Linked DNA regions of Homo sapiens: regions 1, 2 and 4 are each linked to region 3. Evidence: fine-mapped expression QTL. A gene starts in region 3. Each other region holds a variant in brackets. All regions are shown on one strand. Distances are from middle to middle.

Region 1 (7,742 bases), 41 kb before region 3:
CGGAGGTTGCAGTGAGCCAAGATCACACCACTGCATTCCAGACAGGGCAACAAGCGTGAAACTCTGTCTCTTTTTTTGTTTGTTTGTTTTGAGACAGAGTCTTGCTCTGTCGCCCAGGCTGGAGTGCAGTGGCACAGTCTCGGCTCACTGCAAGCTCTGTCTCCCGGGTTCATGCCATTCTCCTACCTCAGCCTCCCAGGTAGCTGCGACTGACTACAGGTGCCCGCCACCATGCCTGGCTAATTTTTTGTATTTTTAGTAGAGACAGGGTTTCACTGTGTTAGCCAGGATGGTCTCGATCTCCTGACCTCGTGATCTGCCCGCCTTGCCCTCCCAAAGTGCTGGGATTACAGGCATGAGCCACTGCGCCCGGCCAAGCTAAACTGTTTCAAAAAAAAAGAAAAAAAAAAGGAATCCAAAGAAAAAAATACATCACCTGCAAAAGGTGAAGAGAGAAAGGAAGCTTTTTCTCTAAAAATGGTGCAGCTATCCTCTGAACCAATTTCCTTCGGTTTAATGTACCTGTATCTTGGGGTTTTTTTCCACTTAATTTATCCTGGAGCTCTTTCCATAACAACACTTGGAAAGCACTCTCATCCTTTTTTCACTGCTGAACAGAATTCCACTGTGTGGATGGAACATACTCTATTTCACCAGTCCCCTGTAGCCAGTCACTTGGTTTGTTTCCAATCTTTTGCTTTTTCAGAGTAATAACCTTGTATGTCTATCATTTTGTATGCATACAGGTTTATATGTAGGAAAAATTCCTAGAGTAGGATTGCTGGACCAATGGATAAAAGTATATTGTGGACAGACAATGCCAAATTGCCTTTCAGAGACTGTGGCCCTGTGCACCCCATCAGGCATGTGTGACTACCAAAGCTCCTGTCAGCTGTTTTATTTTATCTCCTTTCCAGTCTCAGGCTCAATGCAGAACTTTGAGGTAAGCTTTTCTAAAATGTAGGCTCCTAAACGCCACAGCCAGCTCTGCCACATGAAGGAGAGCTCAAATGAGACAGAAACAGCCTCTGGGCAGGATTTCTATCCTGCACAGATATATTTTCCACATTCTGGGAAACCGTGAAGCTTCCAGAGCCACAATTCCCCAGAAACACATCCCCCTGCTGGTACAGCCAAGCCCCAGAACAAGCTGTGCTTGCCTGGCACCTCAAAGCCAAGCACCATGGATGCCACTTGCTATGGGTGCCTGCAATTTCAAATAATGAGAAATAAGAAATTTCAGCTTCTCAGTCCCTCTAGCCAACATTTCAGGTGCATGACAGCCTCAGGTGGCAAGCAGCTACTCTGCCGGACAGGGCAGAAGATGGAACACCCCATCCCTGGGGAAGATCACGAGGTCAGGAGATCAAGACCATCCTGGCTAACACAGTGAAACCCCGTCTCTACTGAAAATACAAAACATTAGCTGGGTGTGGTGGCAGGCACCTGTAGTCCCAGCTACTCAGGAGGCTGAGGCAGGAGAATGGCGTGAACCTGGGAGGTGGAGGTTGCAGTGAGCCAAGATTGCGCCACTGCACTCCAGCCTGGCAACAGAGTAAGACTCCATATCAAAAAAAAGAGAAAAGAAGAAGAAAGAAAGAAAGAAGAAGAAGAGGAAGAAGAAGAAGTGGAAGAAGAAGGAAAGAGGAAGAGGAGAAGCAGGAGAAGAACAAGGAGAAGAAGAAGGAGAGAGAAGAAGAGACAAGAAGAAGGAGAAGAAGGAGAGAGAAGAGACAAGAGAAGAAGGAAGAAGGAGGAGGAGAAGGAAGAAGAAAAGGAGAAGAAAGAAGAAGAAGGAAGAAGAAAGAACAACAAAAAGAAGGAGAAGAACAAGGAAGAAGAACAACTAAGGAGAAGGAAGAAGGAGAAGAAGAAAGAAGAACAAAAAGAAAGAAGAAGGAGAAGGAAGAAGAAGGAGGAGGAGAAGGAGAAGAAGAAGGAGAAGAACAAGGAGAAGGAGAGAAGAAGAAGAGACAAGAAGAAAGAAGGAGAAGAAGAAGGAAGAAGAAAAGGAAGAAGAAAAGAGGAAGGAGGAGGAAGAAGGAGAAGAAGGAAGAATAAGGAAGAAGGAGAACAAGGAGAAGGAAGAAGAAAAGAAGAAGGAGAAGGAGGAAGAAGGAGAAGAAAGAGGAGAAGAAGGAAGAAGAAGGAGAAGGAAGAAGAAAAAGAGGAAGAAGGAGAAGAGGGAAGAAGAAGAAGGAGAAGACGACGAACGAAGGAGGAGAGGAGGAAGAAGAGGAAGGAAGAAGAAAGAAGAAGAAAAGAAAAGGAAGAAGAAGGAGAAGAAGAGAAGAAGGAGAGGAGGAAGAAGAAGGAAGAACTAAGAAGGAAGAGAAGGAGAAGAAAAGGAGAACTAAGAAGGAAGAAGAAAGGAAAAGAAGGAGAAGAAGAAAGAACTAAGAAGACGAAGGAGAGGAAGAAGAAGAAGAAGAAAAGAATAAGGAACAAGAAAGAAGGAGAAGAAGAAGAAAAGAAAGAAGAAAGAATAATAAGGAACAAGAAGAAAGAGGAAGAAGAAAGGAGAAAAGAAAGGAAGAAGAAAAGAGGGAGGAGAAAGAAGAAGAAAAGAGGAAGAAGAAAGAAGAAGGAGAAAAGAAGAAGAGGAAGAAGAAAGAAAAGAAGAGGAAAGAAGGAAGAAGAAAGGAAAGAAAGGAAGAAGATAGAGGAAGAAAGAAGAAAAAAAGAAACAATAGAAGAAGAGGAAGAAAAGAAAAAAGAAAAAGAGAAGAAAGAAGAGGGAAGAAAGAAAAGAGGAAGAAGAAAGAATGAAGAAGAAAGAGGAAGAAGAGGAAAGAAGAAAAGAAGAGGAAAGAAGAAAAGAATAAGGAAGAAGAAAAAAAGGAAGAAGAAAGCAGAAGAAAGAAAAGAGGGAAGAGGAAGAAGAACGAAGAAAAGAGGAAAGAAGAAGGAGGAGAAGAAGGAGAAGAACAAGGAGAAGAAGAAAGAAGAAGGGAGAAGGAGAAGAAAAGAAGGAGAAGAAAGAAAAGAAGGAGAAGGAAGAGGAAGAAGAAGGAAGAAGAAGAAGAAGGAGAGAAGAAAGAAGAAAAGGAGAAGGAAGAAGAAGAACTAAGAAGAAGGAGGAAGAAAGAAGGAGAAGGAAGAAGGAGAGGAGAAGAAGGAAGAAGGAGAAGGAAGAGGAGGAAGAACTAAAGAAGAAGGAGAAGGAAGAGGAAGAAGAAGAAGGAGAGAAGAAAGAAGAAAAGGAAGGAGGAGGAAGAAGAAGGGAGGAGGAGGAGAAGAAAAGGAGAACTAAGAAGAAGAAAGGAAAAGAAGGAGAAGAAAGAAGAACTAAGAAGAAGGAGAGGAAGAATAAGAAGGAAAGAAGAAAGAAAAAAGTAAAAGAAGAAGAAAGAAGGAAGAAGGAAAGAAGAGGAAGAACTAAGAAGAAGAAAGAGGAGGAAAGAAGAAAGAAGAATAAGGAACAAGAAAGAAGGAGAAGAAAGAATAAGAAGAGGAAGAAGAAAAAGAAGAAAAGAAGGAAAGAAGAAAGGAGAAAAAGGAAGAAAAAAGGAAGAAGAAAGTAGAAAGCGGAAGAAAGAAAAGAAAGTATAAGAAGGAAGAAGAAGAAAGAAGGAAAGAGGAAGAAAAAAGAGAGGAAAGAAGAAAGGAAGAAGGAGGAGAAGAACAAGGAGAAGAAAGAACTAAGAAGGAGAAGAAGGAGAGACAAGAAGAAAAGAAGAAGAGGAAGAAAGAGAAGGAAGAAGAGGAAGAAGAACTAAGAAGAAGGAGAAGAAGAGAAGGAAGGAGAAGGAAGAAGGAGAAGAAGAAAGAGAAGAAAAGAAGAAGGAGAAGAGACAAGGAGAAGAAAGGAAGAAGGAGGAGGAAGAAGGAGGAGAAGGAGAAGAAAAGAAGAAGGAGAAGGAAGAAGAAAAGAAAGGAGGAGGAGGAGAAGAGGAAAGAAGGAGGAAGAAGGAGAAGAAGAAAGAAGAAAGGAGAAGAACTAAGAAGAAAAAGGAGAGGAAGAAGAAGAAGGAAGAAGGGGAAGAAGAAGGAGAAGGAGAAGAAGAAAGAAAAGACGAAGAAGGAGAGGAGGAAGAAGAAGACGAAGGAAGAAGAAGAAAAGAAGGAGAAGAAGAACGAAGGAGAAGGAAGGAGGAGGAGAAGGAGAAGAAGACGAAGGAAGAAGAAAGTAAGAAGAAGGAGAAGACGGTGACGAAGGAAGAAGAAGGAGAAGGAAGAAGGAGAAGAACTAAGAAGAAGAAAGGAGGAGGAGAAGAAAACTAAGAAGGAGAAGAAGAAGAAGGAGGAAGAAGAAAAGAAGGAAAGAGGAAGAAGAAAGAAGAAGGAGGAAGAACTAAGAAGAAGGAGAAGGAAGAAGGAAGAAAGAAAAAGAACGAAGGAGGAGGAGAGGAAGGAGAAGGAAGAAGAAAAAGAAGGAGAAGGAAGAAGGAGAAGAATAAGAAGAAGAAAGGAGGAGAAGGAAGAAGAAGAAAGAGGAAAGAAGAAGAAGAAAAAGTAGAAGGAAAGAAGAAAGAAAAAGATGAAGAAAGAGGAAGAAGAATAAGGAAGAAGAAGAAAGAGAAGAAAGAAGAAGAAAAGAAGGAAGAAGAGGAAGAAAAGAAGGAAGAAGAAGAAAGGAAGAACTAAGAAGAAGAAAGAAGAGGAAAGAAGAAGAAAAAGAAGATAGAAGATGGAAGAAGAAAGAAAAGAAAGAAGAATAAGAAGGAAGAAGAAAGAAGAGCAGAAGGAAAGAAGAAGAAGAAAAGAAAGGAAGAAGAGGAAAGAACAAGAGGACGAAGAGAAAAGAAAAAGAAAGAAGGAAAGAAGAAAGAAAAAGAAGAGGAAGAAGAAAGAA[G/T]AAGAAAGAATAAGAAGGATGAAGAAGAGGAAGAAAGAAGAAAAGAGGAAAGAAAGAAGGAAGAAGAAAGGAAAGAAGAAGAAAAGGAAAGAAGGAAGAAGAGGAAGAAGGAGGAAAGAAGAAAAGGGAAGAAAAAGAAAATAAGGAAGAAGAAGAGGAAGAAGAAAGAAGGAAAGAAAGAAAAAGAAGATAGAAGGAAAGAAGATAGAAGAAGAAAAGAAGAGAAGAAGAATAAGGAACAAGAAGAAAGAAGAAAGAAAAGGAAGAAGAAGAAGAAAGAAAAGAAAAAGAAAGAAGAGAAGAAAGAAGAGGGAAGAGGAAGAAGAAAACAGGAAGAAGGAAGAGGAAGAAGAAGAAAAGAAGAGGAAGAAGAAAAGAAAAAAGAGAAAAGAAAAGAAAGGGAAGAAGAAAGAAAAAGAAGAAAAGAGGAAGAAAAGAAAAAAGAAAAAAGAGGAAGAAGAAAAGAAAAAGAAAGAAGAAAGAGGAAGAAGAAAGAAGAGGAAAGAAGAAAGAAAAAGAGGAAAGAAGAAAGAAGAAGAAGAGAAGAAGAAGAAGAAGAAAAGAAAAAGAAGAAGAAATAAACAAAGTGTGCCAAGAGCTCAAAAGGACCATACCTGTTGGACGGGATTACAGGCCCTTGGACCCATCCTCATGAAAAAGATCAGTGTACAAACATTTGCCTCCTGGGCTCTGCATGACTGTGCATTTCAGTAGAATCACCTGGAGGTCTGTTAACAGTGATTTTTTAAAAAGCCCTTAAATGATGGTCATCTTCTGTTCAGGTGGCTCCACACGCTGAGGTCCCACGTGCCTGAAGGTCTGGCCCCTCCGGTTACATGGCTGTGCACCTCCTGGGGGCACTCGGGGCTGCGTTTGCTTTCTTCCTGATATTTTCTGTTAAAAACAAGAATCTTACTTCCTCTGTTGCCTAAGCTCTGCCTCACAGGACTGGTTTTATGTTTTAATTGCATGCCACAGTTTGTGTTAAAAGATGTAACAACTATATTTAAGAACATTTTGGGGAAAGAAAGGTAGCGTCCCTAATCTCTCTACCCTGAAATGAGTCTTAGCTTTTCCACCTTGCCTATAGCAGCTATGGGGGGGGGGGGGGGGGGGGGCGGTCCTTTCTTTTCCCTCAATAATATGCTAGAAACATTTCCCTCAGCAATATACTAGAAATATGTCAGGAGTGGTTTTCTTTGTTGCCTCATATCTAATGGAGACTTCACAACTATCAGTGGCTGCCTAGTGCCCCATTCTGTGGTTGCCCCATTATGTACCACGTCAGTGGGTATCACAGCGTTTAAGGCTTTTTCATCATGAGCTGATTTTGTTTTTAATGAGGGATTAGTACTAGAACCTTCTATCCTGCTTGTCTGATGATTCCACAGAACACTGAATCCCATATCAGGCTTTTGAGATTGGCATACTCAAATAAGTTGTGATGACCTCAGAAGGTTTATTTGACCAGATTTGACTGGTTCAACTCATATTAAGTCAGTTTTGGCTCCTATGTCTTAATGTTTGTGAAAAAAGTCTGGAGGTGGTTCCAGGCTTATTCCAAAATGGAAAAAAAATGTCAAGGTATAGAGGGCTGGTAAGGAAGAGATTATGGACAGCATCACTGGCTCCGGGGCTGTGAAGGTCACAGGGTTCAGTTTGGGCCAACACCCTCATTGCACAGATGGGGAAACCAGGGCCAGGAGGCACTGTAGTTTGCCCAAGGGAAAAGAGGGCAGGGCTAGGGGTAGGAATCTGGAAGGCCTAGAGCCAGCATCACAGCATTCTTGTCTGAGCAGCCCTTGGAGGGCCCTGCTGCATTCCAGTGGGGGCCACCCAGCTCCTGAGAAGCAGCCCAGCAGAGTACGCTCTTACCAGCCAGGTCCCTCCTGCCAATGGCCACGAGGCCCTCGAACAGCGCTTTGCTGGGGTTCTCACCAGCCGTGGCCACGCCATGCAGCCAAATGAGCAGCATTCGGTGGCCGTGCTCCTGATAGCTCCTGGTGCCTGAGAACAGTGAGGGAGGAGAGAGAGAGGGAGAAGGAGCCAATGGGGCCACTTGACCAGAGCGCCTGTCTATGCCACCCTGCACCGCCTCCTGAACATGCCCAGGTGGGAAAGAGGCCAAAAGCCTCCAAGGCCCTTCTCCATGCTCCAGCCAAGCTCAGCCTGGAGATAGGTAAGGGGAGTGGAGGAGCAGCCTCTCAGATGGGGAGGGAAGGGTTTGTGTCTTGGTCTCTAGAACCTCCCCAGCCCCAGGCCTTCTCCTGAACACCCACTATGCACTCTGTTGGTGTCACTCTGAATGGAGAAAGAATTGACTTTCATCGTTGTGGTACCATGATGCACAAATTGTATACTTCACCTCTCTGGCTGCTCAAAATAATCTGTGTCTTGCATGATAGTGGTCCTAATTTACAGATGAGAATACAGCTTAGTCAGAGATGGAGCTGGCCATGCTTTCCCCTGCACCAGTGGTTCTCAGACTCAGCTGCTCCTTGGAAACACCTAGGGCCCATGTCACCCCCAGAGATTCTCATGTACCTGGGACTGGGTGCAGCCTAGGCATTTAACGGTTTCAAAATTTCCCAGGTGGTTCCAACATACAACCATGTTTGGAAAATAATTGCCCACACGGCATGGGGTTAACATGTTATTCAGCTGGCTGTGATTCAGCTGGCTCTCCAGTGCTGTGGAAACAGACAGATGCTGGGCCACGCCCATCAGGTCCAGGTCACTCCATTCGCCCCTCTGACCTTCCGTGCCCCTCTTGGGGCCCTCAGCAGGCATGTCCTCACGGTACTGCCCTTGGTGTGGTGGCACTTCCGCTTGACCCAGCAGTCTCAACACCATTTATTAACTATCTCTGCCCCCGCCACTGTAATGTACAAGTGCTTCTTTATCATATATGAAAGTTCTTATCCGTAGCAGCGTTTACTTTTGAACT
Region 2 (5,000 bases), 27 kb after region 3:
TATTTACATGGCTTAGCCTACTGCGAAAAGCTATCCTTGAAGGATTATCAGTCACCTATACCTGAGTGTGAGGGAGTTTTTGATCCTTGTGACCTTGTACCACAAATATTTTCTCATTTACCATCTCATTTAGTGCCTGCCAACTAAGAGCAGATATCATTGTCCTCATTTTACAGCTGGGGAGACTGAAACTCAAGGAGGTATGGTGATGGGTTCTCAACCACACCTGTGGGCAGTCCCCTGGCCAGCATCCCAACCAACTCCGCTTTGGGTCAGCCACTCTGTCCTCAACACCAGCTTCTTTCTCATGGCCTTTCTCCCAGAGCACATCTCCATAGAAGGGAGGGGAGCCAGCAGGGGGACCCAAGGCCCCGGGAGAAGTGGCTGAAAGAGAGAAGAGAAACTATATGGACATTCGCCTGGAGTCCTGATTTCTTTTTTTTTTTTTTTTTTTTTTTGAGACGGAGTCTTGCTCTGTCACCCAGGCTGGAGTGCAGTGGTGCGATCTCGGCTCACTGCAAGCTCCGCCTCCTGGGTTCATGCCATTCTCCTGCCTCAGCCTCCCCAGTAGCGGGGACTACAGGTGCCCGCCACCACACCCGGCTAATTTTTTGTATTTTTTAGTAGAGATGGGGTTTCACTGTGTTAGCCAGGATGGTCTTGATCTCCTGACCTCGTGATCCGCCTGCCTCGGCCTCCCAAAGTGCTGGGATTACAGGCGTGAGCCACCGCGCCTGGCCTGGAGTCCTGATTTCAAACCATGAGTCCTTGTCGGGCTTCCAGATCTGCACACAGGAATGTAAGGGCCGCCCTTCATAAGAACAAGATAGCTGTCTTGTGTCCTCTCCCCCAGCCCTCTACCGCCAGCCTTTTTTCTGGCCAAAAGGCCCTTGGCCAGAATAGTCCTTTAACTATTCTTCTTACGACATTGTCTAATTATGATGATTAGACATAAGTATGAAGAAAAACATGCATTTTTTTTTTTTGAGACAAAGTCTCACTCTTGTCCCCCAGGCTAGAGTGCAATGGCACAATCTCAGCTCACTGCAACCTCCACCTCCAGGGTTCAAGCGATTCTCCTGTCTCAGCCTCCCCAGTAGCTGGGATTACAGGCACCTGCCACCATGCCCAGCTAATTTTTGTATTTTTAGTAGAGGCGGGGTTTCACCATGTTGGCCAGGCTGGTCTCAAACTCCTGACCTCGCGATCCACCCGCCTCGCCCTCCCAAAGTGCTGGGATTACAGTCGTGAGGCACCACGCCCGGCCAACATGCAGCTTTTAAGTTAAACAATGTATATGCCTTTTCTGGGGGAAGACTTTTCAACTGAGGAGCTGTGGGTTGCTCACTGTCCAGGGATGTCACAGAGTTGAATTTTATGCAATTAAGTGAAATAATCAGATCAGCACTCAACTTTCTGATGTGACTGGAAAATTGTCTTTAAAAAATCAAAATCTTTTTTTTTTTTTTTTTTTTTTGAGACAGAGCCTTGCTCTGTCACACCCAGGCTGGAGTCCAGTGGCGCAATCTTGGCTCACTGCAACCTCCACCTCCCCTGTTCAAGCAATTCTCCTGCCTCAGCCTCCCGAGTAGCCGGGACTACAGGCGCATGCACCACAATGCTCGGCTAATTTTTGTATTTTTAGTAGAAATGGGGTTTCACAATGTTGGCCAGGCTGGTCTCGAACTCCCGACCTCAGGTGATCCACCCGCCTCAGCCTCCCAAAGTGCTGGGATTACAGGCACGAGCCACTGTGCCCGGCTTTTTTTTGTTATTTTTTTGTTTTTGAGGCAGGGTCTCATGTCACCCAGCAGACTGGAGTGCAGTGGCACAATCATGGCCCACTGCAGCCTCAACCTCCTGGGCTCAAGGCAATCCTCTAACCCCAGTCCCCTGAGTAGCTGGGACTACAAGTGCATGCCACTATGCCTGGCTAATTTTTTATAATTTTTGGAGAGATGAGGTTTTGCCATGTTGCCCAGGCTGGTCTGAAACTCCTGGGCTAAAGTGATCCACCTGCTTTGGCCTCCCAAAGTGCTGGGATTATAGGAGTGAGCCACCGCACCCGGCCAAAATCCACATTTTTAAAATGTGGATATATCCTAAAATACTGCAGGGAAGACCTAGATCAGGGGTTCTTAACCTCTTTTGTGTGTGCCATGGCCTCCTTTGTCATCTGGTAAAAACTTGCAGACCCCTTCTCAGAATAATGTTCTGAAATGCACAAAATAAACTAGCATAGGCTTACAAAGAAAACCAGTTGTATTAAAATGTAGTCATCAAACAATTAAAAAAA[A/T]TTTTTCGACATAGTACTAGATAGTGCTTCCTAATTAATGCCTGAAGATCAAGAGCTAATAATAGGTCCAATAACTGCTGTAATTTTGAAATAGTGATGAGTATAAACCATATTTTGAAATATCTTCAAAAACCGTTATATGATTTGAAAATATTTGTAATTGCTAGTGACATCATCACGAGTCCTGCTAATACTGCTGTGGTTTGTTGCCTACATTCATCGTTGAAGAGAATGCTAAAATTCAGGTAGAAATTAGTGAAAATAAAGATATATATTTTTTCTCTTCCAAATTTTTAGACTCCTTGAACTCTATCCTTTGATCTTTCGGGTTCCCTTAGATGCCAGATTAAGAACTCTTGTTCTAGTTCTATCTTATATTTTATAGCATGTATATGTAATTATATCCAACAATTACAACAAATACCACAATGCAAATGTATCCAGATTTTGTGGTTTTCAAAATCTGATTAAATTTACCAATAAATAAAGTGCCTGGCAGGTAGTAGGTCTCGATAAAGGGGTGTCTCTCTGCCCAGGGCCTGGGACTCCTGCTGTAGTTGCGCTGCTCATTCTTCTAGGGACGCCCACAGCCTGCTTGGCACTGGGCCAGGCCTTTCCCCACTGTTAGCAGCTTTTATGCCCCGATGCCACACTGCTGCCACTTGGCAGGTGAGAAATCACATTAGGTTTGGGGATATTTTGACTGCCCCTCAACCCTGGGAGGAGGGTGGCTTCATAGCCCAGCCTTGAAGAGCCCCAGGCTCTTTCCCCTAGGGCCCCAAGCTGCCTGCATCCCGGGAATCCCCTGGAAGCCCTTTGCGCCTGCTTCCCCTCTTGACTCATCTGAGGTCGGATGAGGAGCAGTCATGAGCCGCGTGACAAGGTCAGTGCTGACAGGCTCACAAGATGCCCTGAGCGCCTCCCAGGAGAGCTGGCAGGTCCTCAGAGCAGACAGGGCAGACAGATCCTAGAGGAGAAGTCCACTCCAGCCCCTCAGGCTTCAGAACAGGGCCGGAACAGAATTCAGGTTCTGGCTCCCAGAGCTCATCCTCCACCTCTCCCTGCTTCCAGGCTACCCTTTCCCCTGCCCAGATCCTCGATTCCCTGGGGAGTCCTGCTCCCCTCTAGCCAAGCTCTGCCATCCACCTCTTTCTTCAGAGCCTTTCCACCTCATCATCTGCCTTCTTATCAAAATCTGCCTGTTTTGTGTCCCATCAGCATCTGCTCCCAAGGCAACTCCCAGTTATCAGGGGTACATGCAATGTGGAGTAGAAAGACCTGTATTCAAGTGTGGGCTCTGATTGGCAGAGGAATTCCTCTGCCTCTCAGGGCCTCACTCAGTGTCCTCATCTATTCCATGGACACATTTAAATTGCTGCCCTAACTTTCATAGTTGTTATGAGGAGCAAACCCATTTTTCGCTGTGAAATCACTTTATAAACTGTAAAGCACTTTCATAGCTGTGATTTGGGACTCATGGCTGGCAAGTTGTTTGGCGTTTCACAATTATCAAGATCCCTCTGGGGAAATGATACAAAGGAATGGTTTTAGTGGTGGAGTTTCCAGCAGATAGGGAGATCCGTATAGCCAGAGGGCCCTGCCACATATTCCTACCTCCTCCCCTAAACCATGTCCCAAGACGTGGCCTTATAGGCAGTCTCGTCTTGAACATGCTGAGAGTTTGAAATGACCCCTCTGAACCTAACACAGGAAATTGACTGGGGAAGTGTTGGGGTTCATGCAGACTTGCTTCTGCTTTAGATGTGATTCACCCAGTTTGTCTTAGCCACAATTGTGGAGTCAGTCAAGAGAATGGTAGGAGGATGAAACATCTGTTTCTGAGGAAGAAAGCAAGCTAGGACAGGTAGATAGCCCACTGCAGGGGCAGAGCCTGTGGCTCACAGAGGGGCATTTTCGTTTTTTTTTTGTTTTTTTTTTTTGAGATAGGGTCTCACTCTGTCACCTAGGCTGGAGTGCAGTGGCATGATCTCGGCTCACTGCAACCTCTGCCTCCTGGGTTCAAGCAATTCTCATGCCTCAGCCTCCTGAGTAGCTGGGATCACAGTCACGTGCCACCACGCCCAGCTCATTTTTTTTGTACTTTTAGTAGAGACGGGGTTTCACCATGTTGGCCAGGCTGTTCTCCAACTCCTGACCTCAAGTGATCCACCCATCTTGGCCTCCCAAAGTGCTGGGATTACAGGTGTGAGCCACCGCGACTGGACATGGGAAGGCATTTTCAAACGCTTGCTTGGCTTGGGAGCCTGGAGTGTGACCTGCCAGAATCCTGCAGGGTTTAGCACCAGAAGGCTTGGATTCCATACCGCGCTCTGCCACACCCAAACTGTGTGCCCATGGGAGGTCACTGGCTGTCTGTGGGCCTAGGTTTTCTGTCTGTTACAGCTCTGCAGTAATTCCCAACTCAACAGGGTCTTATGAGGATTCATGGGCTCACAAGACACAGAAATGCCTACATTTATGTTGGGGAGTAAAGTGCCCAGCTGTGGCACTGCCACCCAGCCCAGCACATATCTAGGTTTCCGGAGTGTCTGTCTCCCCACTGGGCTGACTCTTGCAGAAGAGAGTCACATGCTGAGACCTGTGGGTGTTCACTCTGCACAGTGGCTAAACGAAGGGAGGGAGGGCAGTGTACCCGCAATCATCATTCCAGAGCTCATGCTGTGTCAGGGCCAGATGCCTGGTA
Region 3 (6,913 bases):
GCTCCCCCTGCCAACCCCTGTCACGCACACCTGTGGGCTCAGGGTCAGACTGCATTAGTCTCTGAGCCAGGAGGACACAGGTCCAGATGATCCCCACCGGAGCCCCATGCTGCCATCATCCTGACGGCTCTTGATTGTGAGGATGTCTAGTCTCCATGGCTAGACTTCAAGTATTTTGGAGGCCCTGGCCACACTTGACCCTTCCTGATCCACCCACAGCTCACAGCAGGCCCAAAGGTGGGCACAGGAGGAACCCACAAAACTCTGCTTTTGAGCCAGGCATGGTGGCTCATGCGTGCAATCCCAGCACTTTGGGAGGCCAAGGCAGGAGGATGGCTTGAAGCCAGGAGTTCAAGACCAGCCTGGGCTAAAAAGCAAAACCTCCATCTCTACAAAAAAGTTTTTTTAAAAATTAGCCAGGTGTGGTGGCACATGCCTGTAGTCCCGGCTACTCAAGAAGCTAAGGCAAGAGGCTTGCTTGAGCCCAGGAGTTTGAGGCTGCCAATGAGCTATAATTGCACCTCTGCACTCCAGCCTGGGCAACAGAGTGAGACCCTGTCTCTAAAAAGAAAACAAAAACAGGCTGGGTGCAGTGGCTCACACCTGTAATCCCAGCTCTTTGGGAGGCCGAGGTGGATGGATCACGAGGTCAGGAGATCAAGACCATCCTCGCCAACATGGTGAAACCCCGTCTCTACTAAAGATACAAAAATTAATTGGGCATGGTGGCACACACCTGTAGTCCCAGCTACTCGGAAGGCTGAGGCAGGAGAATTGCTTCAACCTGGGAGCTGGAGGTTGCAGTGAGCCGAGATCATGCCAGTGCACTCCAGCCTAGTGACAGAGCGAGACTCCATCTCAAAAAAAAAAAAAGAAAACAGAAACAAAAAAATCTCTGCTTGTATGAGTGACACCAACAATCCCCAGACGAATAGATGCCTGTCCCCTCTCCCAAAGTGCTCACACATACTAGCACAGAGACAAATATTTGCTGGCCCTTTCCATAGTCACTGCAGGGCAAGTGACCCCATAGCCTGCATGTTTGGTCCAGTATGAATGTCTGAACCCAGCCCCTTTGTGTATCCAGGGACAGGTGACGAGTGTCTTGGTAGGGAAGGCTAAGATGCACTGAGGTGAGAGACAGGCCTGCCATGCAGTTTGTTTTTCTAGATAAATTCCACACAGTCTTCTCCAGATGAGAAAGAGGATCTTGAGCTTTCTGGGGCCTCATGGATACAACCTGTGGATCTCAGAGTTGCTACCCTGGGGGGCAATCACACAGTCCTGGGTTCAACTCTGGCTTAACCACTTCCTAGCTGTGTTAGGCAGTTTCCTCATCTGCAAAACAGGAGTGCGAGCTTCCCTACAAGGTTAATATCATGATTAGAAATGAGATATGAAAACCCCCTGGCACAGTGTCTGGCACATAATGACCACACCGCCACCACCACCACCATCATCATCACTATTATTCCTCCAAGGCAAAGGGTCAAATTCTGGTAGCCAAAGAGAGCTGCCACTTCAGATGTGAGCTTACAGAGGCCTGGGTTCTAGTACCTTCCCTGCCACTTTCCAGCAGCAGGATCCTGGGCTAGTCACATCCCCCTTGTAGGTCTGTTTCTTCCATTGTAAAACTGGGGGAGGGTGAAGAAAGAGATCTGTATAGGTCCCTTCCTGTCTGGCACCCTCTATCTTATGTGCAGCTTAGGGGGATTGGCCTGGTTTGTATTGGCAAACAGCCAGGAGTTCCAATGGGAAGCCAGCAGACACTGCATAGGGTCAGGCCAGAGAAGGTTAAGTTAGAATGAAATCAAGTCCAGTCTCATCTCTTCCATCCACCTCCCATCCGGCACCCTCTTTCTGGCCACATCCAATACCCACTGAGCTACCTGAGCCTTTGCCCATGCTGGGTCTTTGTCCAGAATTCTCTGCCACACACCCCAATGCTCCATTGGTACACATTCTTCGCAGGCCCACTCAAGTGATCCTCCGCCCCAGGCAGAACCATGTACCTAATCTTGATTGAGCATTCCCACCCCCAACACATCCCTCAGCTGAGTAGATGCAGTGTGCCAGCATTTTGGACACTATAGGTCTCAAAGGAATCCAGTGAGCTGCACTATGCGCTTTTGAGGGAAAGCCCCGGGATTCAGCTGTCAGGATTCAGCCAGGGCTGCAGGATCAAGGACTCACAGTGCAGACACCGACACAATCTTTCTCTCCCCTCTCCCAGACGGTGCAGCCAAAGCTGCCCCAGGCCAGCTGATGCCCACACAGACGCTGCTGCCCGGCCTAGAGGCCCTGGCACTGGGCGCACTCCTTGAGGGAGGTTCGGAGGTGCCCTCATTCCACCTGTGGCCAGTCAGGCTCCTCTCCTCTGAGTGCGTGCCCCATCTGATGCGGTCTCCACTCGCTATCCAGCCCCAGCATTCCGGGTGAGCTGGGCCCTTCAGCACTTCTACCACTCAATGGCTGTGTGACCTTGAACAACTCATTTGAACACCCTGTGCCTCAGTTTCTCATCTGCGAAATGAAGATAACATAATGTCCTACCCATATGGCCGCAGCGAAGATCAAATGACGTGCCTCTCCTGGGTCAAGGCCTGGCACACAAAGTACAGCACGCAGTCAAGGATCGCTATTACCTTTATTATTTGTAGCTAACCTCTCAGCCGCTGCTCCCCGCTCACCTGGCGGGTGTGGTCCCCGAGTCCCAGACGCACTGGCAAGGTCCCCTCGGCCCAGTGCGCGGACCGGTAACCATTCCGCTCGGAGCCACACAGACGCCCCACACGGAGGTGGCCGTTCGGAGGGCGCCAACCTCACCCCTGGCACTCCCCAAACGGATGCGGGGGTCCTCTCGGCCTCGGCCCGCCCCCCTCCCTCCTCCAGGCAGACTCACGGCCGTCGGTCTCCCACGCCAGCTCCTCCTGCATCCTGCCGCTCCGCAGCCCCTGCGCGCGCTGGTGCCCGGGCGCGAGGCGCGCGTCCGCCGGGGCGGGGCCCGGGGAGCCGAGAGGACGGGGCGGTCGCTCCTCCAGACTCCACGCCCCGCCTGCTAGGAGCGCAGCTGCCCCGGCCACCCCAGTCCCGGACCAGGACGCAGGTCCCTCCTCCTGCTCTCTTAACCTGCCCACCCCTCCGCGCCCGAGGCCGGCGGGTCGGGGCCACGCCGAGTTCCGCAGGTGTCCCTGACCCAGTCTCCTCCCCGGGAGTTCGCCCAGCCTCCCCGGCCCTGGAGATAGATGCGCACAAGGCATCTGGCAGGCTCATCCTCCTCGCGCCTCTCGGGACTCGGGGAGGAGGGCTGAGCCTTGGGCCCGCCGCCTCAGGCGCAGAAAGTCAAACCCCAAAGATGTGAGCTGGCGTTTAAGGGACCACAACCTCAGCAGGTCTGCAAGCATATGAAGAGATGGTCGGATTTATCAGTGTTCAGAAAGATTTATCAGGCCCATAAAGGGACATGTAGGAGGATGTTGGTTGCTGTGTTGCTGTGGTTGCTGGGAGTTGGAGACAATCTAAGCGCCCTTTCTTGTAAGAGCAGATGGATAAACTGTGCAGCACTCAAAGCAAGGGACCCGCTGTATTCGTGGCAATATGGATTTAAACACCTAGTGCTAGGCAGAAAAAGTAAATAACCAAACCAAATAAGACCTAGGAAACAATATCAATAAAAATATTACAAATGCATTTACATCAAACAACACAGACTTGCAAAGACACATAGAAACAAAAAGATACACATTAAATACACCAGAATGGGTTGCACTTCAGACCCTTGGGGGATGTCCATGTCCTTTTTGCCTTAAAGGCATTTACAGCTTCTTTGAATTTAGGGATAATGGGGTCTCAGGCATCTCTATCCCAAGGCAAGAAGCCAGCAAAGCCATGATAGGTGTAGTTACTACTACTTTGGGGATCAAAGGAGGAAGAGCATCTTTCAGTCATTAGTCCTTAGAATATAGTTCAAGAAGGCTTCCTGAAGAAGGAGGTATTTGGAATGGCCTTTGAAAAATAACATAATGATAACAGCTAACAATTAATGAGCCCTGAGCCAACCCCTCAAAATGGTCTCAAAATAACAATTCCAACATAATAATCAAAGATATGATTTTTTTTTTTCTGAGACAGAGTCTCACTCTTTCGCCCAGGCTGGAGTACAGTGGTATGATCTCGGCTCACTGCAACCTCTGCCTCCTGGGTTCAAGCAGTTCTCCTGCCTCAGCCTCCCATGTAGCTAGGATTACAGGCACTCGCCCCCACACCTGGATAATTTTGTATTTTTAGTAGAGATGGGGTTTCACTATGTTGGTCAGGCTGGTGTTGAACTCCTGACCTCAGGTGATCCACCTACCTTGGCCTCCCAAAGTGTTGGGATTACAGGTGTGAGCCACTGCGCCGCACCCCCCCCTTTTTGTTTTTGTTTTTTTTTTAAGACAGAGTCTCACTGTGTTGCCCAAGCTGGAGTGCAGTAGCGTAATCTCAGCTCACTGCAACCTCTGCCTCCCAGGTTCAAGCGATTCTCATGCCTAAACCTCCCAAGTAGCTGGGACTACAGGTGTGTGCCACCACACGCGGCTGATTTTTGTATTTTTAGTAGAGACGGGGGTTTCACCATGTTGGCCAGGCTGGCCTCGAACTCCTGACCTCAGGTGATCTACCCACCTAGGTCTCCCAAAGTGCTTGGCCACCACGCCTAGCCAAAGATATTATTCCTGAAAACAGTTTAAATGTTTTTTGTAAAGCTTTTGTCACATGTACATCCCACTAGGGGCATAGTGTCACGTTACTGTTTTAGTCACTTGGAATAGTTCTTTATGTGGTTATGCCACCAACTCAACATGCATGGTTTATTTATTTTGTTTTGCTTTTGTTTTTTGATATTTTTAAATGTTAATTTTGCTTTACAATTATGTAAAGTATTTACATGTTTCAAAGTTAAGTCTCTGAAGGTTGTCATAGTCAGCTGTGGTGATGGATGAAGAGGGCACCACTGGCTTCCAGCCTGCTGTCACTCTCCTTCACTCCACATCCAGCTTTTCTTCCCAGCTGCTGAGCCTGCTGACCAACAGTGGCCCCAGGCCATCGCGGACTTGGCTGCAGACCCAGGGCATTAGTACCACCCATAGACCTCCCCAGGAGCTTTCCCTTGTGGTTCCATTTTAGCAGCTGGACATACTTGGTTTCTCAGATGACTGACTAAGGACTCCTCTGATCCCCAACTCCCCTTCTGGTCCTTCCGCAACTGTGTAAGGCAAATTACTATCACAGATCCCTAATCCCAGGGGTCTCCAACCCCCAGGCTTCAGACTAGTACTGGTCTATGGCCTGTTAGGAACTGGGCCACACAGCAGGAGGTGAGCAGCAGGAGAGCGAGCATTACCACCTGAGCTCCGCATCCTGAAAGATCAGTGGTGGCATTAGATTCTCATAGAAGGGTGAACCCTATTGTGAACTGTGCATGTGAGGAATCTAGGTTGCACACTTCTTTTTTTTTTTTTTGAGATGGAGTTTTGCTCTTGTTGCCCAGGCTGGAGTGCAATGGCTCACTGCAATCTCTGCCTCCCGGGTTCAAGCAATTCTCCTGCCTCAGCCTCCCATGTAGCTGGGATTATAGGTTTGCGCCACCATGCCCGGCTAATTTTGTATTTTTTTAGTAGAGATGGGGTTTCACCATGTTGGTAAGGCTGGTCTCAAACTCCTGACCTCAAGTGATCCACCTGCCTCGGCCTCCCAAAGTACTGGGATTACAGGCGTGAGCCACCATGCCCAACCTAGGTTGCACACTTCTTATGAGAATCTAACTAATGCCTGATCATCCGAAGGGGAACAATTTTATCCCAAAACCATCCCCCCACCACCCAAGTCCTGTAAAAAATTGTCTGCCACAAAACTGGACCCTAGTGCCAAAAGGTTGGGGACCAGTACCCTAAACCCATAACCTCAACATGATTCTGCTTCCTTCACTGCATCCTGACTGACAAAATAACATTTGTGTTGTTGATGCTTACCCTTATATTGTTTAATTTAATCATATATTCTCCCTTTACTGCAGTAGCATACTATATATCATCTTCTTACTTTGCCCTGCCCCTTAAAATTCACCCATTTAAGTGTATAATTCAATGGTTTTTAGTACAGTATCGTTCAGAGTTGTATAACTATCACCACTAAATATTTTCATCACCCCAGAAAAGAAAGCCCATATGCTTTAGCTATCACCCCCCCTTGCAGTTTACCCTCCCCAACCCTCCACACACAGCCCTAGGCAACTACAAATCTACTTTCTTTCTCCATAGATTTGCCCGTTCTGAACATTCTTCTGGCTTTATTCTGGGAACAATCTACTACAGAGATCTCTCCGCAGTAGTCTGTTGAGATCTTCCTGCATCCTTTGTACAGCCTCAGAGTCCTCCATTGGGTGGCTTATTCAACCACTCCCTGTTGATGGACATTGGCCCTGTTTCCAGACTTTTGTTATTACAATAGAGTTACAATGACCAACCTTATGCATGCATCAGTTGGTATTTTTACCAGTGCATCTATGGGATCTATTCTTATAAATGGGATTGCTTGGTCAAAGGGTAAATGCACATATAACTTTGCTAGCTATTGCCAAATTCTCCTCCATAAGGTCCAGAAATATTTTGCATTTCCATTACCAATGTATGAGGGTGCCTGTTTCCAAGGAGAACATTCTGTAAAACTTGGATTTTTCCCAATCTGATAAGTAAGAAATAGTAATTCATTATAATCTTAGTTTGCATTTCTATCATTACAAGAAAAGTTGGTTATCTGTTTCTATGTTTAAGAGCCGTTTTCTTTTCTTTTTTTTCCTGAGAACAATCTGTTCTTATCCCACTCATTTTTTAAATGATTGTTGGCCTTTTGCTTAAGAGAAATTTTAAAACAG
Region 4 (7,606 bases), 21 kb before region 3:
ACCTGGCAACGCCTTCACTTTTTATGAATGTGTCTTTTGACACTGTTACTACCAGCAAGTTACTTTTGGTATTAAAAACAAAGCAAATACAACAAATAAAAGTGACACAATTAAATAAATAAATAAATAGGCAGCAAAAACAGCTAAAATGAAAAGGAAAACAACATACTAAATGAAGGTAACAGGAAAACTTCTTAGTTTGACCACTGGGCTGGCATCAGGATTCTGGTGTCTTGATGGGCAGAAACAAGTAAGCATTTAGCCTGAATTCTTTCTAGCTGGAGGTGATACTATTTACATGGGGGAAAATGGGAGGGCATTAAAAAAAAGTCCTTGCTTTTCTAGGGCTTTGGAATCAAGGATGCCTTTCTTCTCTATATTCCAATGAATTGTGTAATGTTGTTTTTATAATAAGTTTAAATATAGTACTTGTTTTAGCTGTAAGAAATGACCCCTTTCTGATTTAAACCATAGATGTTTCCCTGTTTATGTAATGGGAATAATAATAATAGTACTTATAGGTAAGGAAACAGGCCCAAATAGGTCAAAGCAGCTTGCCCAGGATTATTCAGTTTGTAGTACCAGCATACAAAGCCAGGCCTAACACCAAAGCCTCTTGTTTTTAAATTTTAATTATTTAATTCAGCTTGATAGTTATTGTCAACTTGCCTTCTAGAAAGATAGTCACCATTTGAAACTCCCACTACTTTTTTTTTTCTTTTTGAGACAGTCTCACTCTGTTGCCCAGGCTGGAGTGCAGTGGAGCGATCTTGGCTCACTGCAACTTCTGCCTCCTGGGTTCAAGTGATTCTCGTGCTTCAGCCTCCCAAGTAGCTGGGATTACAGGGATACACCACCATGCCTGAGTAATTTTCTTTTCTTTTTTTTTTGAGGCGGAGTCTTGCTCTGTCGCCCAGGCTGGAGTGCAGTGGTGCGATCTCGGCTCACTGCAAGCTCTGCCTCCCGGGTTCATGCCATTCTCCTGCCTCAGCCTCCTGAGTAGCTGGGACTACAGGCGCCTGACACAAAGCCCGGCTAATTTTTTGTATTTTTAGTAGAGATGGGGTTTCACCATGTTATCCAGGATGGTCTCGATCTCCTGACCTCGTGATCCGCCCGCCTCGGCCTCCCAAAGTGCTGGGATTCCAGGTGTGAGCCACTGTACCCGGCCACACCTGGCTAATTTTCTATATTTTTGTAGAGATGGGGTTTTGCCATGTTGCCCAGGCTGGTCTCGAACTCCTAGCCTCAAGCAATCTGCTCACCTTGGCCTCCCAAAGTGCTGGGATTACAGGCTCACGCCACCATGCCCAACCCAATTTTTTTTTTTTTTTTTTTTGAGACAGAGTCTCACTCTTGCCCAGGCTGGAGTGCAGTGGTGTGATCATGGCTCACTGTGGCCTCAACTTCCTGGGCTCAAGCAGTCCTTTAGCCTCAGCCTCCCAAGTAGCTAGGACTACATGTGTACACCACCATGACCAGCCAGTTTTTCAAAAAAAATTCTGTAGAGATGGATCTCCCTGGGTTACCCAGGCTGGTCTTGAAGTCCTGAGATCAAGCAATACTCCAGCCTCGGCCTCCCATAGTGCTGAGATTACAGGTGTGAACCACTGCACTCCCAAAGTCTGTGTTTTAACCAAAAGATTATACAGTTCCTGTGTGTGGACCAAATGTATAACAGTAAAAAGATTAACAATTAAGTGGACAGATAGGCAACATAAAAGATTAATAGTAAAACCCAATGCCTAGGCTTGGCACAGTGACTCATGCCTGTAATCCCAGCACTTTGGGAGCCTGAGGCTGGCGAATCACTTGAGTCAGGGGTTCAAGACCAGCCTGGCCAACATGGTGAAACCCCAGTATTTTTCTACCAAAAATACAAAAAAAAAAAAAAAAAATTAGCTGGGCATGGTGGTGTGTGCCTCTAGTTCCAGCTATTCAGGAGGCTGAGGCAGGAGAATTGCTTGAACCTGGGAGGCAGAGGCTGCAGTGAGCCGAGATTGCAACACTGCACTCCAGCCTGGGCAACAGAGCAAGACTCTGTCTCAAAAAAAAAAAAAAAAAGAAAAGAAAAAAAAAAGCCCCAATGCATAAACGAGCAGAGAACAGGAGCTAATAATTCAGTTCAGAGGAATTGCAAGCAAGCTGGGTTTCTAATCCTATTACAGCTACAACAGTATTTCACTCTCCTAAGTGCTGCCGGCTCCCCTACTCCTGGTCCGCACCCCAACCCCAAGGATCCGATGTGCCTGTTTCTCCCTGTGCTTCATCAGTGTGCTCATGGAAGGCTTTGCAATGGAGACCCCCTTCAACACTCGCACCATACTTACATGATCAACCACGTTGGCGCAGCCTCCTGCGTGGATGAGGACCCGAGACACATCCTCCGAGCCACTGAGGGCTGCATAGTGAAGGCAGCTTAGGTTTTTCTAGAAGGAAACAGGCATCAATGCG[T/A]TATCACAAGGACCCCTCCTACTGAGGTTTGCAAAGCTCTTCGAGATTCATTTTTCCATTTGAGTGTCACAACACCCCTGGGAGTATTATCCCCATTTAACTGAGGCTGGAAAAATCAATGACTTTCCCAGGTCTCATGACCAGTAAAAGGAACTCATTATGGTCTCAGTCTTTTCCTCACCTCCTATCACAAACTCAAGAATTCAGACCAAAGCCTGCCCAATTCTATGGCTGGTAAAGACATGCAGATGATAGACTTTTTTTTTTCCCGAGACAGAGTCTCACTCTGTCACCCAAGCTGGAGTACATGGCACAATCTCGGCTCACTGCAACCTCCACCTCCCAGGTTGAAGTAATTCTCCTGCCTCAGCCTCCCGAGTAGCTGGGATTACAGGTGCCTGCCACTACGCCCAGCTAATTTTTGTATTTTTAGTAGAGACGGGGTTTCACCATGTTGGCCAGGCTGGTCTTGAACTCCTGATCTTGTGATCCACCCGTCTCAGCCTCCCAAAGTGCTGGGATTACAGGCGTGAGCCACCGCACCTGGCCAGGAGGTGGTTTTTAAAGAGGAAGACAAATAAGATTTGCCAATACAGAGCAAACTCCACCCAGCATGCACTGCCCAGCACAAGCTGGTCTTGGTGCCTCCAAACAGGATCCTGGCTGGGCTAGAATGGAGGCTTGATCTTGGTGGGCCTCAAAGGGCTCTCTTTCAGTCAGTGCCCAACCTGGCCCAGTGATCACCTTGCACAAGGCACACACCAGGCAGGCCCCACTAGGGTGACCCACCACTGTCTCAGTTTGCCCAGGATTGAGGAGTTCTTGAGATGTGGGACTTTCCATTTTAAAATCAGGACAGTATGGGGCAAACCAGGACTAGCTAGCCACCCTGCTAAAGTCCCAGCTGAGCGAGTACCTGGGGTGTGTGGGACTCAGTCCATCTCCCAGTGGGAAATGCAGTCACCGTGGGCTTGGCACCTCCTCCGAGACCCTGTGGCATGACATTCTGAGAGGGGTGGGAGTGTTGAAATGGAACGTGGCCTCTGCCAGAAACCACAAGCTGAGGTTGGAGCAAAAGGCCTGGCGTGATGAGCAGCTCCAGCCCCCCACCCAATGGCCACCCAGCTGGGTGCAACCTTCCCAGTCTTTTTTTTTTTTTCTTGAGACAGGGTCTCAATCTGTCACCCAGGCTGGAGTACAGTGGTGCAATCATAGCTCACTGCAGCCTCAAACTCCTGGGCTCAAGCAATATTCCAGCTTTGGCCTCCCAAAGTGCTGTGTTACAGGCATGAGCCACCTTGCCCAGCCTACTTTTCTTTTCAAAGCCAGTCAAATTAAGCAGTGGGGAAATAAATATTTTTTAGCATAACATTTTAATTCTCTGTTTTTGAACTGCCTGTGTGTTTTTGCTATTATTATTTATATTGTATTATTTATTATTAATATTTTTGCTATACTATTGACATTTAGAACAAAGCAAGAATTCCAGAACCTGAAGCCATTCAACCAGCCAGAAAGGTTATTTGTCACTGATTCAAAAATAAAAAGCAAACCCAAAACACCAACTCACTACCTAAAGAAAGGCCACAACCCCGCTTTCCAGGTCATAGAGGAGAATTTTTACTGGCAGAACTGATGAGTACAACGGGGAGAGAGAGAAGAGGTTCATCCAGGGTCACACCTCAAGCCCCAGCTCTGTCAGGGGAAAAGCTTCATCAGTGGGTGGGAGCTCTGGAGTCAGGGGAAAAGGCTTTTGAGACTCAGCTTTGCCTCGTACTAGCTTGTGACCCTGAGAAAGTGCCCTCAAAGCTCCAGTTTTCTCATCTGCAAAATGGGTGGAATTTTTCTGGGGTAACAGTTATGAAGGGGCTTTGTGAACGATCAAGAGCTCAACAAATAGAAGACACTAACAGGGCCAGGTGCAATGGCTATCCCGCCTATAATCCCAACACTTTGGAAGGCTGAGGCAGGTGGATCACTTGAGGTCAGGAGTTCAAGACCAGCCTGGCCAACATGGTGAAACCCTGTCTCTACCCAAAAAATACAAAAATGAGCCGGGGGTAGTGGCACACACCTGTAGTCCCAGCCTCTTGGGAGGCTGAGTCAGGAAAACTGCTTGAACCCAGGAGGCGGAGGTTACAGTGAGCCAAGATCGCACCATTGCACTTCAGCCTGGGCGACAGAGTAAGACCCATCTCAAAAAAATTAAAACAAAAAAACACTAACAGGTATTGAGGTGTTGGGCCCTATTATGTCCTGGGCACTGTGTTAGGTATTTAATCCTCACAACAATGTAAAAAAGTAAATGTCACTGCACTTTATAGTTGGGAAACAAGGCTCAGAGAGGTTAAGTAACTTGCTCCAGGTCACAGGGCTCAGCAGTGGAGAAGCCAAGATCAGAACCTTGTCTGCTGCCTCGAAGCCTCTATTCACTCAGGGTTCAGGAATCCCTGTGGCCGTTACTGCCGACATGGCTATGGCTCAGCAGCCAAGAGCCGACCGCAGTCTTGGGAGGGCCTGGCTACCTGGGTGAGGGCATTCACGGTGCTCCCAGCCCTGAGGAGGAGCTGCACACAGTCAGGGTGGGATCCTCCAGCAGCCGAATGCAGGGCAGTCAGACCTTCCTGCAACACACAAGAAGAGCAATGAGGATGGTGGGGAGGCCCACCCCCAAGTGACCCCCAATCCCACGGTGAGAGGATGCCCCTTGTGCCTTGGCCCCAGGACCCCTTGAGCTCTCCACTGCCCTGCCCCTGGGAACAATGAACTTTCTTGTTTGTGATTCCATGAGCCCCACCCCTGAAGTCCTCACTTTATGGAGCACACACATGGCATAGTCACTCCTGGCTCCACATCTCTGCTCATGTTCTGCCCCGGTCAGGCTGTCTCAGCCCCTCCCCTCTATTTCCTTCTCCTCCAGCAAGCCCTCCCTCACCATCCTGTCCACGGTGACGTCTCCCTTCTTTGAACACACACTTTCTGTCTCACTTCTGGGGTGAGGCATCATGCCAAGTACTACCATTAAGCCTGGAGTTCAGTGCTGCTGCTTGTCTTTCCCTGGTGGGCTCTCAGTTCGAGATCATGCCCTCAGCCTTCTGGCTTTAGACTTCACCATGGACTGGTGGGGGTTCCTCGAAGGCAGAGAGCAAGCAAGGGTCATGCATCTCGCCATCCCCAGGCGGTGACTCACCGCATTCTGCTCCTCCAGGTCCAGCCCGATGTCCACAAGTCGCTGCAGCACAGCCATATGGCCCCGACCAGCAGCCAGATGAAGGGCAGTGTTCCCCTCCTGCAGGAAAAAGGGCTCCTGAGAGGCCAGCAGACCAGAGAGTCCCAGAATCACAGACCTGTGATGAGCTGCAGCCATGCACACTGGGTCAGTGCCACCCTGCTCCTGACAACTGGGCCAAAAACTATAACCAGGGGCAGATTCAAGGGCCAAGCCCTGGTCTTTCTTTCCTTATACTTCAAGGCAGGCACATTGCTTAAAAATTAAACAAATCCAATTCTACTTTCCACGTGCCCATCTGAAGCCGGTCCCTCCTCATGTCCCCCAGATCCATCTCCTCTCACGGCTCAAGGCCCCAGCAACTCTCCCCTGCGCTCAGGCTGTTCCAGGCAGCTGCTTGGCTCAGTCACCTGCCTCCCTCAAGTCTTTGTGTGAGACGTTAGTTTCTCATTGAGTAGCATGGCCTGCCCGGGCCACACTGAAACTACAACCCCCACCTCTGTCCTCCTGAGACTATTTTTGGGTCCTGCTTTTCCTTTCCCCACTGCACAGATCACCTGCTAACACACTCTGTCACTGGCTGAGTGCTTAGTATTTATTGTCTGACTTTTTTTTTTTTTTTAATTTTACTTTAAGTTCTGGGATACGTGTGCAGAATGTGCAGGTTTGTTACATCGGTAAACGTGTGCATTGGTGGTTTGCTGCACCCATCAACCCGTCACCTAGGTATTAAGCACTGCATGCATTAGCTATTTGCCCTGATGCTCTCCCTAACTTTGCCCCCCTTCAACAGGCCCTGGTGTGTGTTGTCCCCCTCCCTGTGTCCATGTGGTTCTCATTGTTCAGCTCCCACTTATGAGGGAGACCATGCAGTGTTTGGTTTTCTGTTCCTGTGTTAGTTTGCTGAGGATGATGGTTCCTGGCTTCATCCATGTCCCTGCAAAGGACATGATCTCATTCCTTTTTATGGCTGCATAGTATTCCATGGTGTGTATGTGCCACATTTTCTTTATCCAGTCTATCATTGATGGGCATTTGGGTTGGTTCCATGTGTCTGACCCTTCTTGCTGGAACATAAGCACCACAGGGGCATCTATTTTGTTCTCTGAAGTTTCCTTAAGTGCCTAGAATAGGGCCGGGGGTACATGGCCAACACTCAGTAGATATTTGTTCAATGAGTCAATAATGTAGGAGGGTCTTCAGGTGATCATGTGGAGAGCTTGACATGTGTCCCTGGGACTTGAGGGCCAGAGGACTGGTAGTTGCTTTGCACTTGGAAAGTCTAAAGGTGACAGTGACATAGCCAAGAGAAGCAGCTGCATGGGGCAGGGCAGAGGGCGCAACGTACTTTGTATCAGAAGTGGCCCCTGCTGAGGTCAGCCTGCGTGGGGTTGTCCTTTAAAGGGATCTCCCTGCTGGGCATGGTACCTCACACCTGTAATCCCAGCACTTTGGGAGGCTGAGGTGGGCAGATAGCTTGAGCCCAGGAATTCCAGCCTGGGCAATATAGTAAGACTCCGTCTCTACAAAAGATACAAAAATTAGCCAGATGTGGTGGTGCGTGCCTGTAGTTCCAGATACTGGAAAGACTGAGGCAGGAGGATTGCTTGAGCATGGGAAGTTGAGGCTGCAATGAGCTGTGATTACGCCACTACACTCCAGCCTGGGCAACAGAGTAAGATCTTGTCTCAAAAAAAAATTGAATTCAGCTAAAAATAATAAAATTTTAAAATAATTTTAAAAAGCCCTCAACAGCTTTGTTTTTCTCTCCTTGCCAGCTTCTCTGCAGCCTATAGCCTGCAGGCTGGCTGCTGCGAGCCAGGACAAGCGGTGGGAAATGCAATCACAGCGTGAAATCTCTGTGTTCAGAGACACGCAGGAAGCAGGTGAACCATGAAGGGCCAACACATGCCCCCAGTTAGC

What was found.
Region 1: its variant is fine-mapped to the expression of ANKDD1A in NK cells (Gilchrist 2021, PIP 0.94).
Region 2: its variant is fine-mapped to the expression of ANKDD1A in whole blood (INTERVAL, PIP above 0.99).
Region 4: its variant is fine-mapped to the expression of ANKDD1A in whole blood (TOPMed, PIP above 0.99). The same link has a PIP of 0.9 or more in blood mononuclear cells.

What each region holds. Positions count from the first base shown.
Region 1 is chr15:64,948,901-64,956,642 of GRCh38, reverse strand. It overlaps ANKDD1A (ankyrin repeat and death domain containing 1A), which reads right to left. Exons shown (of 15, transcript NM_182703.6): 14 at 6,671-6,802. Among named protein-coding and RNA genes, the nearest start is that of SPG21, 37 kb to the left of the region's middle. The variant G/T (reference allele first, on the strand shown) is at 4,796.
Region 2 is chr15:64,882,324-64,887,323 of GRCh38, reverse strand. No RefSeq gene overlaps it. Among named protein-coding and RNA genes, the nearest start is that of ANKDD1A, 27 kb to the left of the region's middle. RefSeq lists an enhancer at 3,047-3,266. The variant A/T (reference allele first, on the strand shown) is at 2,297.
Region 3 is chr15:64,907,954-64,914,866 of GRCh38, reverse strand. It overlaps ANKDD1A (ankyrin repeat and death domain containing 1A), which reads right to left and starts at 2,965. Exons shown (of 15, transcript NM_182703.6): 1 at 2,903-2,965. The coding sequence starts at 2,936. RefSeq lists an enhancer at 2,210-2,753 and silencers at 2,940-3,119, 3,320-3,369, 3,443-3,737.
Region 4 is chr15:64,928,959-64,936,564 of GRCh38, reverse strand. It overlaps ANKDD1A (ankyrin repeat and death domain containing 1A), which reads right to left. Exons shown (of 15, transcript NM_182703.6): 7 at 5,645-5,743; 8 at 4,980-5,078; 9 at 2,331-2,429. Among named protein-coding and RNA genes, the nearest start is that of ANKDD1A, 21 kb to the right of the region's middle. RefSeq lists enhancers at 4,535-5,412, 5,652-5,751 and a silencer at 5,500-5,794. The variant T/A (reference allele first, on the strand shown) is at 2,455.